2 separate regions of the Homo sapiens genome follow, and region 2 is linked to region 1. Evidence: fine-mapped expression QTL. A gene starts in region 1. The other region holds a variant in brackets. All regions are shown on one strand. Distances are from middle to middle.

Region 1 (5,376 bases):
TCCAAAGTGAGCCACTACACCTGGCCAACAATTTTTTTTGTTAAATCTTTATTCTCTTTCATTTTCCATTTAAGATTCCCATGGCCATAATACTCAAGTCAGAAACTCACCATAGTGTCTTCAGTCTCCAAACTGACTTCTCCACAGATAAGTAATCACATCGATAAGGCCATCTGTTAAACTCCCTCACTTTCCTTCCCTTCTACCACATCATTATCCATTTTCACTACTATCCTTTTGGTGTCAAAGGGCAAAATGCCTGACTGACATATTTCCTAGATGAACCTTCCCCTCACTTACAGAACTGTTTCACCTGTACTGAAAAGAAAAACACACATGTGCCATAATGGAAAGAACACAGGTTTCAGAACTAGACATACCTGCTCAAATCCTTGTCCACAGTACTCTCCACTGTAAAAGAGGGATACTGACATGTTAACCACAAGGCTGTTGTGATCTATAAAGCATCTTTATGTACCTGGCATATAGTATATTCTCAATAAAGATGAGTTTCACTAGAACCAGCTCTCCTTCACAACCAAACTCTGGAGAATAATTTTACTCATTTCTCCTCATTTATTCCTCAATCCATCATGATCTCACTACTACCTTCTTTGCCATCCCCACCCTACCAAAACTGCATTTCAGAGGAAACAAGTGACCTCCTGATTGCTAAATATAGGGCAGGCCAGGCATGATGGCTCACCCCTGTAACCCCAGCTCTTTGGGAGGCCGGGGAAGGCAGATAGCTTTGAGCTCAGGAGTTCGAGACCAGCCTGGGCAACGCAGAGAAATCCCGTCTCTACAAAAAATACAAAAAATTATCTGGGTGTGGTGGCTCCTGCCTGTGATCCCAGCTACTCAGAAGGCTGAGGTGGGAGGATCCGAGACTGCACCACTGCACTCCAGCCTGGGCGACAGAGTGAGACCCTGACACCAAAGAAAAAAAAAAAAAAGCTTCTTAACTCTCATTCAGCTGGACCTCGAAAGCACGTGACATTGATAGTCACCGCCCCCCACTCCCTTCTTGAAATCCTTTCTTTGGCTCCTATTATAATGCTGTTATGTTCTAGTTCTTGTCCCGTTCCTTTAATCTCTCTTTTTCAGTGTCTATTACCTTTCAAACAATGATGCTCCTTCTGGTCCACAGCCCTTCTCATCTTTCAGTATTACCATTCCATACTAAGGCACACAAATATCCCCCATATATTCTCTTGACCCTCCAAATTTATGTATCCAGGTCCAAGCTTTCTCCCAATTTTCAGACCCAAATTTCCAGATACCCACAGTGATATTTCAAAACACCTCAAACTCGGCTGGGAGCAGTGGCTCACGCCTGTAATCCCAGCACTGTGGGAGGCCGAGGTGGGCGGATTGACTGAGGTCAGACGTTCGAAACCAGCCTGGCCAACGTGGGGAAACCCCGTCTCTACTAAAAGTACAAAAATTAGCCGGACGTGGTGGCGCATGCCTGTAATCCCAGCTACTCGGTAGTCTGAGGCAGGAGAATCGCTTGTACCTGGGAGGAGGAGGTGGCAGTGAGCTGAGATCGTGCCACTGCACTCCAGCCTGGGTGACAGAATGAGACTCCGTCAAAAAAAACAAAAACTAACAAACAAACCCTGAAACTTAACTTGTTCAAAACCAAATTTATTACCTTCTCTCAAAATTGCTTTTTTATGCTCCCTATTTCAGATGAGATCAGGAGCGTTGAGGGTGGTATAACCAGAGACTATGTTCCCTATTTCAATTAACACTACCGATTCACACCATCAGCCAAGTCAGAAACTTTCTACTATTCTTCTCAACTTTATTTTGAAACCTCTTGGAATTTCGGGCCATTCCCTCCCGCCTGGATGAGCACACTCGTTTTCTGCCTACCTGGCCTTTCCGCCTCCACGGTCTTCACTTTCAATCCTTCCTCTATATTTTCACCAAAGATAATGCAATCATACCAAGCTCCTGCTTACAAAACCTTCAACGGCTCCCCATGCATGCAGCATGAAGTCCAAATTCCTCAGCAAGTTCTTCTCAGAGGTATACAATTTAAAGACTTTTAAATTACGCAAACCTGGATTTCGCTTGTAGCGAAATCTGAACACTGGCTTAGTCCACTCTTCACAGCGAAGAGTAAAAAGCAGAGAGGGGAAAGGAAGGGAGACGATGACAAGCGAGGAAAGAAGAGGGGGAAGGCAGTAGGGTCTGAGGGGAGGGAATTGTTTTCCTGGGTAGAGGTGAACGTTTTCGAGGGAAGAGTGTATCGGAGGGAAGTCAAGTGAAGGAACCCAGATCTCTGAGGCAGGAGCGGGTATGCGAGCAGGGAGGCGCTCAGTGGGGAGCTGGAAGTCTCTGAAACAAGAGTTTTCCGAGAAAACGAAAGATCCCTAATGCGAGCGAGGTAACTTCTAATGGGTTCCCAGGTTCTAAGGGGGAGCAGACGTGGCGGGGAGCCTGAGGGAAGTGAGAAGGAAAGGGGAAAGCGGCCAGGAAGGGAGCGTCCGCCGCCGCTGAGAGGGGGACCTCTGGGAAGCCGAGGGGTCCCGTCGGGTGCGGAGGGACGCAGGCGCCTCTGCTCCGGGGCAGAGGAGGTGGAGCGGCAGCGCGCGCGGGCCAGGCAGGATGCCCGGGTTTGTGACCCCCGTCCTCTTTTCACGTTACCTGAGGCAGGACTGAGCAGCCAGAGGGGTGCCTGCGCGGGCAAGAGGAGGAGACGGCGGCAAAGAGGGAGCATAGTAACCCTCACAGCTCGTTGGTGGCAGCGGCTCCTTAGCCTGCGGAGGCGGTGGGAGCCCCTAGCGCAGAAGCCGGCGACTCAGCTAGGCTAGCGGCGGCGGCGAACGAGGAGACTACTGCCATGGCCCCACAGTCGGGGCCGCTCCCCCCGCCTGTTTGGCGGGGCCAGGAGGACGATCCGACCAGCGAAGCCAACAGGGCAGCTGGTAGCTCTGCTGAGCTCCCGGGCCGCGAAAGACTGAAACGCCTACCCGGCCCAGCAGGGGGGTTGGGGGCGGGGTCTCGGCTGGCCACGCCCCTCCCTCAAGCCCTCCCTCAGAGTAGCCAGTCAACCGTCAACTCCTGATAAACGAGGTAGTGGAATTGCCCAATTAGCGCTAGGAATGCCACGTGGTATGAGGGTGGGCACAATGGGCGTCCAGAAAAGCCAATCAACAGCCGTAGGTGCCAACTCCGGAGGACGAAGGGAACCAATAGGAAGGAAGTCGAGGTAAAAACAGAAGAAGCAGTGTGTGGGAAAGGCGGAACCGAGGAGGAGGGAATACACCTGGGGGAAACCCAAGTCCAGGAGCCTCTTAGAGGGCGGGGCAGTAAACACAAGATGGACCAATAAAAATGTTAAACACAGAAATGATTGGTAATTGATAAAGCCAATAGAAAATGGACTAGACTGGCGCGGCTTTCGGGTTGGTCAAGGTATAGCTGAGTAAGGAAAAGCGGTAAGAATGCTGCGTCCTGCAGGATTTCAGTATAGTGAGGAGGAAAAAATATATCAATAATACCGACTTGAAATAGTAAGAGCAATCAGTAGAGCTAAACAAAATGCTAGGGAAGCAATTAATCATGACTATGAGATTCGGTTAAGTGAAAGCTTAGAGGAGGTAACACTTCAGCTAGCTTGAAAACAGATTTTGAAAGAAAGCTGGTGGGGAATAAGTTGGGATTTTTTGTTGTTTTTGTTGGTTGTTTTTTTTTTAGAAGGGTCTCACTCTGTCGCCCAGGATGATGGAGTGCAATGGAGCGATCATGGCTCACTTGCAGCCTCAAACTCCTGGATTAAGATGATCCTCCCAACTCAGCCTCCCCGGATAGCTGGGACTACAGGCACACGCCAGCATGCCTGACTAATTTTTTGTATATTTTGTAGAGACGGGGTTTACCATGTTGCCCAGGCTGGTCTGTAACTCCTGGACTCAAGTGATCGGCCCACGTTGGCCTACGAAAGTGCCGGGATTACAGGCGTGAGCCACCGCTCCCAGCTAAGAATTCTGCCCAGCTGTTCAAGGCACATATTTCTTCACTTTTTGCATGTGCCTGGACATCAGGAGCTCATAATCTCATGACTGAAGAGACTAGAACAGGAGGAGGGCAAGAGCAAGCAGTATGGGCCTTACTGTATTAGCACTCCCAGGGGTTAGAGACCCCTTTTCAGACATCTTAAGACTTTCATCCTCCTGGAAGAGTATAAGTGGTATGCATTCCTGGTGGCCATAAAGTTTAAGAAATATGGCCAGGGCCGGGAGCAGTGGATCACGCCTGTAATCCCACCACTTTGGGAGGCCGAGGCAGGGGGATCACGAAGTCAGAAGATCGAGACCATCCTGGCAAACATGGTGAAACCTCGTCTCTACTAAAAATAGAAAAATTAGCTGGGTGTATTGGCGCGTGCCTGTAGTCCCAGCTACTCAGGAGGCTGAGGCAAGAGAATCGCTTGAGCCCGGGAAGCAGAAGTTGCAGTGAGCCAAGATCGCACCACTGCACTCCAGCCTGGGCGACACAGCAAGTCTCCGTCTCAAAAAAAAAAAAAAAAAAAAAATATGGCCAGACACAGTGATTCACTTCTGTAATCTCAGCACTTTGGGAGGCCAAGGTGGATCACTTGAAGCCAGGAGTTTGAGACCAGCCTGGGCAACATAGCGAGACCCTGTCTGTACAGAAAAAAAAAAAAAAATGAGCCCAAAATGGTGGCATGTACCTGTGGTCCTAGCTACTTGGGAGGCTAAAGCCAGAAGATCACCTGAGCCCAGAGGTCAAGGCTACAGTGAGCTGTGGATGGTGCCACTGCACTCCAGCCTGGACAACAGAGCAGGACCCTGTCCCAAAAAAATATAAAAAGAAAGAAAGAAGTGTGGTAGGAGATATTGGAGAGAGAAGAGGCTGCATGTGGGTTGGGCTTAAATGCCAATATTCAAATTTGTCTTTTGTTTTTTATGCTGTGAGAGCTATTCTTGAGCAGGACCATAAACTAAACAGGGCAGTGTTTTAGGAAGATTAATTGGTAGCTCACAGAATCTCTGAAGGGAGAAGAGAGATCACCCCAGCCCAGTCCCCCTGACCAAAGGCTTTTTGGTACCATTCTTCTGGCAACAAATCATGTGCTGCCACCTGGTGACAGCTCAAATAACAATTTTCCACATTGCTATTTAATATTTCTGTTGAGGTTGGGTGTGTGGGCTCAGACCTGTAATCCCAAGGGCTTTGGGAGACTGAGGTAGGAGGATCTCTTGAGCCCAAGGGTTTGAGACCAGCCTGGGCAACATAGTGAGACACATCTCTACAAACAAAAATCCTTTTATAATTAGCTGGGTGTGGCATCACATGCCTGTAGTACTAGCTACTAGGGAAGCTGAGGCAGGAGGATCA
Region 2 (5,376 bases), 37 kb after region 1:
AAGGCGGGCAGATCACAAGGTCAGGAGTTTGAGACCAGCCTGGCCAACATGGAGAAATCCCATCTCTACTAAAAATACAAAAATTAGCTGGGTTTCGTGGTGTGCACCTGTAGTCCCAGCTACTCAGGGGGCTGAGGCAGGAGAATCTCTTGAACCCAGGAGGCGGAGGTTGCAGTGAGCCGAGATCGCGCCACTGCACTCCAGCCTGAGTGACAGAGTGAGACTCCGTCTAAAAAAAAAGAACAAAAGCCGGGCATGGTGGCTCAAGCCTGTAATCCCAGCACTTTGGGAGGCCAAGGTGGGCAGATCATGAGGTCAGTAGTTCCAGACCAGCCTGACCAACATGGTGAAAACCTGTTTCTACTAAAAATACAAAAATTAGCTGGGCGTGGTGGCAGGCACTTGCAATCCCAGCTACTCAGGAGGCTGCAGCAGGAGAATCACTTGAACCCGGGAGGCAGAGGTTTTAGTGAGCTGAGATCCCGCCACTGCACTCCAACCTGGGCAACAGAGCAAGACTCTGTCTCAAAAAAAAAAAAAAAGAAAAAAGAAAAAAAGAAAAGAAAAAAGAACTAAAAGAGAGTGGAGCACATTTGGCATGTGACTATAGTCCCAGCTACTTGGTAGGCTGAGGTGAGAGGATCACTTGAGCCCTGGAGTTTGAGCCCAGCCTAGGCAGTGCTGCAAGAACCAGTCTCTAAACAAACAAAGAAAAAAAAACAGGAAAAAAAAAGAGTTATCCTAGCCTAGAGAAATGTTAACAGTCTATCCCCTTAAGATCATAAAAGTGAAATAACTGGACAGAGTACTGAAAAAAGAAGAAATCTGTTGAACAAGTCTAAGTGATTTGTAGAGTCTCTCCAAAGGACAGTAAAGATTTCAGAACCATGGGGAGGAGGCTTTCTTGCAGGGTCTGATGTATACCTCTAGTTCTATTTTTAGATATATTCCATTGTGCTCTCTTCATTTGCTCACCATTAGCATGGGAATTATTCCCCTTGTTTTATTTATATTTGTAGTAACAAGTCTAGCACAGTAACTGGCATAGAAGTACTTAATAAATGTTACAATGTGTTGAAGACTTTTGAGATGTAGAATTAAATTATTTGAACTACGTTTCAGGAAGTTGACTCTGGAAGCTGTGTGATGAATGAATTTAGTGACTAGGAGATTAGGCAAAGAGAGCAATTGGGAGGCCACGGCAATGATCCAGACAAGAGAAGTCTCAGAACTGTAATATGACATTAGCAGCAGGGTAGAAAGAAGGAAATACAAGGTATATTTCTTCAGGCTTTAGGATTAATTGGATTTAGGATGAAAGGAAAGAGTAAATTAAATCCAGTTTCTTGGTGACATGAGTGATGTCATTAACCTGTGACATAGGAAACACTGGAAGAAAAGCAGGTTTGAGGTTTAAAATAATGTTAAACAGGCCGGGAGCGGTGGCTCACGCCTGTAATCCCAACATTTTGGGAGGCCAAGGCAGGAGGATCATCTGAGGTCAGGAGTTCGATATCAGCCTGGCCAACATGGTGAAACCCCGTCTCCACTAAAAACACAAAAATCAGCTGGGCATGGTGGTGGGCACCTGTAGTCCCAGCTACTTGGGAGGCTGAGGCAGGACAAGTGATTGAACCCGGGAGGCGGAGGTTGCAGTGAGCCAAGATGGCACCACTGCACTCCAGCCTGGATGACAAGAGCGAGACTCCATCTCAAAAAAAAAAAAAAAAATGCCGGGTGTGGTGGCTCATGCCTGTAATCTCAGCACTTTGGGAGGCCGAGGCAGGTAGATTGTCTGAGCTCAGGAGTTCAAGACCAGCCTGGGCAACATGGTGAAACCCCGTCTCTGCTAAAATACAAAAAAAAAAAAAAAAATTAACCGGGTGTGGCAGTGTGCCCCTGTAATCCCAGCTACTTGGGAGGCTGAGGCAGGAGAATTGCTTGAACCCAGGAGCAGAGGTTGCAATGAGCCAAGATCGCACCACTACACTCCAGCCTGGGCAACAGAACAAGACTCCGTCTCAAAAAAAAAAAAAAGCAGTAGTTACATCACTGCACTAATTTGCTGTGGGAGACAGTTACCTGACTCATCAACAGCCATTGTCTCTTCTTCACAGCCAACTAAATGTAAAAGGTAAGGCAATTCAATGTAAGTATAAAGCCCATGTCCCAGGACAGCAATCATTTTAACAGTAGGACTTGCTAACCTGATAGCAGCCTGCTATAAACTTATAAACCATTAAAATTAAACCTATAAACCATGAAACTAAATGCTCTCAGATAATTGTAACAACAAATGCAAAATAAAATAATGGACGCCGGGCATGGTGGTGCATGCCTGTAAAGCCAGCACTTTGGGAGACCGAGGTGGGCAGATCACTTGAGCCCAGGAATTTGAGATCAACCTGGACAACATGGCGAAACTCCATCTGTGGGGGAAAAGCAAGAGAGATCAGATTGTTACTGTGTCTGTGTAGAAAGAAGTAGACATAGGAGACTCCATTTTGTTCTGTACTAAGAAAAATTCTTCTGCCTTGAGATTCTGTTAATCTATGACCTTACCCCTAACCCC[G/A]TGCTCTCTGGAACATGTGCTGTGTCAAACTCAGGGTTAAATGGATTAAGGGCTGTGCAAGATGTGCTTTGTTAAACAGATGCTTGAAGGCAGCATGCTCCTTAAGAGTCATCACCACTCCCTAATCTCAAGTACCCAGGGACACAAACACTGCGGAAGGCTGCAGGGACCTCTGCCTAGGAAAGCCAGGTATTGTCCAAGGTTTCTCCCCATGTGATAGTCTGAAATATGGCCTCGTGGGAAGGGAAAGACCTGACCGTCCCCCAGCCCGACACCCGTAAAGGGTCTGTGCTGAGGAGGATTAGTATAAGAGGAAGGCATGCCTCTTGCAGTTGAGACAAGAGGAAGGCATCTGTCTCCTGCCCGTCCCTGGGCGATGGAATGTCTCGGTATAAAACCCGATTGTACGTTCCATCTACTGAGATAGGGAAAAACCTCCTTAAGGCTGGAGGTGGGACATGCGGGCAGCAATGCTGCTTTGTAAAGCATTGAGATGTTTATGTGTATGCATATCTAAAAGCACAGCACTTGATTCTTTACCTTGTCTATGATGCAAAGACCTTTGTTCACGTGTTTGTCTGCTGACCCTCTCCCCACAATTGTCTTGTGACCCTGACACATCCCCCTCTCCGAGAAACACCCACAAATGATCAATAAATACTAAGGGAACTCAGAGGCTGGCGGGATCCTCCATATGCTGAACGCTGGTCCCCTGGGTCCCCTTATTTCTTTCTCTATACTTTGTCTCTGTGTCTTTTTCTTTTCCAAGTCTCTCGTTCCACCTAACAAGAAACACCCACAGGTGTGGAGGGGCAACCCACCCCTTCACCATCTCCACAAAAAATAAAAAATTAGCCCAGTGTGGTGGTGTGTGCCTGTGGTCCTAACTAGTCCAGAGGCTGAGGTGGGAGGATTGCTTGAGTCCCAGAGCTCGAGGCTGCAGTGAGCCGAGATGGCACCACTGTACTCCAGCCTGGGTGACAGAGTGAGCAGAGTGAGACCCTGTCTCAAAAAATAATAAAATAAAATAATGGGAACCCAAATCACAAGACAGCACTCATTTTTCTTTTATTTATTTTATTTTTTTTGAGACAGAGTCTTGCTCTGCTGCCCAGACTGGAGTGCAGCAGCATGGTTTCGGCTCACTGCAACCTCCACCTCCTGGGTTCAAGTGATTCTTGTGCCTCAGCCTCCCAAGTAGCTGGAATTACAGGTATGTGCCACCATGCCTGACTGATTTTTGTATTTTTAATAGAGACAGGGTTACGCCATGTTGTCCAGTCTGGTTTCGAACTCCTGGTCTCAAGGGATTCACCCATCTCGGCCTCTCAAAGTACTGGGATTACAGGCTGAGTCACCACTACCGGGCTTATTTTTCATACAGATGATTTAGAATATGTTTATGTTAAATTTTTTTAGATTATCACTAAAAGAAAACAGTTGAATTCTTCAATTTACAAGGATTCAATTTTTAAAATTATATTTGAATGTACAGAGGCCTACAAATACCAATTTCAGAAACACTGTTATCAAGGATATCTATTTGTTAAAATTGAATGCAACTGAAAGTAACAGATTAACTGCAAATAACAAGCTTAACCAAATAGGGGATTAATTTTTCCCATTTAACAAGGAGACAGGGCCGGGCACAGTGGCTCACGCCTGTAATCCCAGCACTTTGGGAGGTCGAGGCGGGTGGATCACTTGAGGTTGGGAGCTCAAGACCAGCCTGACCAACATGGAGAAACCCCGTGTCTACGAAAAATACAAAATTAGCCGGACGTGATGGTACATGCCTGTAATCTCAACTACTCGGGAGGCTGAGGCAGGAGAATGGCTTGAACCTGGGAGGTGGAGGTTGCAGTGAGCCAAGATCGCGCCATTTGCATTCCAGCCTGGGCAACAAGACGAGCTCCGTCTCAAAAAAAAAAAAAAAAAAAAAAAAGCAAGTAGACAGGGCCAGGTGGAGTGGCTCATGGTTGTAATCCCAGCATTTTGGGAGGCCGAGATGAGAGGATCATTTGAGCTCAGGAGTTGGAGACCAGCCTGGGCGACATAGGGGTACCCATCTCTACAAAAAATTAAACAAACAAACAAAAAATAGCCAAACATGATGACGCATGCCTGTAGTCCCAGCTACCCAGGAGGCTGAGATGAGAGAATTGATTGAATCTAGGGGGTTTAGGCCACAGTGAGCCATGAATGCACCACTGCACTCCAGCCTGAGCAACAGAGCAAGACCCTGCCTCAACAAAAAAAAAGCAAAACAAAATGATAAAAAGCAAGTAAGGCAGGGCACAGTGGCTCACGCCTGTAATCCTAGCACTTTGGGAGGCCGAGGCAGGCAGATTACTTGAGGTCAGGAGTTCTAAACCAGCGTGGCCAACATGGTGAAACTTCGTCTCTACTAAAAATACAAAAAAAATAGCCAGGCGTGGTGGTGGACACCTGTAATCCCAGCTACTCTGGAGGCTGAGGCAGGATAATCGCTTAAACCCGGGAGGCGATCATGCCACTGCACTCCAGACTGGGCTACAGAGCAAGGCTCTGTCTCAAAAAAAAAAAAAAAAAAAAGAAGTAGACAGCTGTTACAGTATGTTAAGCTCCATAGAGACAGCACCAGGGCAAGTGAGAGCCTGACAGGCACAGGGTGACTCTGTGCCTCACTGAGGAAAAATAACTAGACATGAGCAAAGGAGATCCTCAGAAACCTAGAGGCAAAATGTCATCATATGCATTTTTCGTGCAAAACTTGTCGGGAGGAACATAAGCACCCAGAGGCTTCAGTCAGCTTCTCAGAGTTT

The links. PIP is the estimated chance that this variant, and not a neighbour inherited with it, causes the effect. A credible set is the group of variants that fine-mapping cannot tell apart.
Region 2: its variant is the best candidate, but not a certain one, in a credible set for the expression of TESK2 in whole blood (INTERVAL, PIP 0.56).

Annotation. Positions count from the first base shown.
Region 1 is chr1:45,488,194-45,493,569 of GRCh38, forward strand. It overlaps TESK2 (testis associated actin remodelling kinase 2), which reads right to left and starts at 2,970. Exons shown (of 11, transcript NM_007170.3): 1 at 2,659-2,970. RefSeq lists enhancers at 2,628-2,677, 2,964-3,258 and a silencer at 2,908-3,127.
Region 2 is chr1:45,525,669-45,531,044 of GRCh38, forward strand. It overlaps the pseudogene HMGB1P48. Among named protein-coding and RNA genes, the nearest start is that of PRDX1, 6.5 kb to the left of the region's middle. RefSeq lists an enhancer at 1,386-1,894. The variant G/A (reference allele first, on the strand shown) is at 2,573.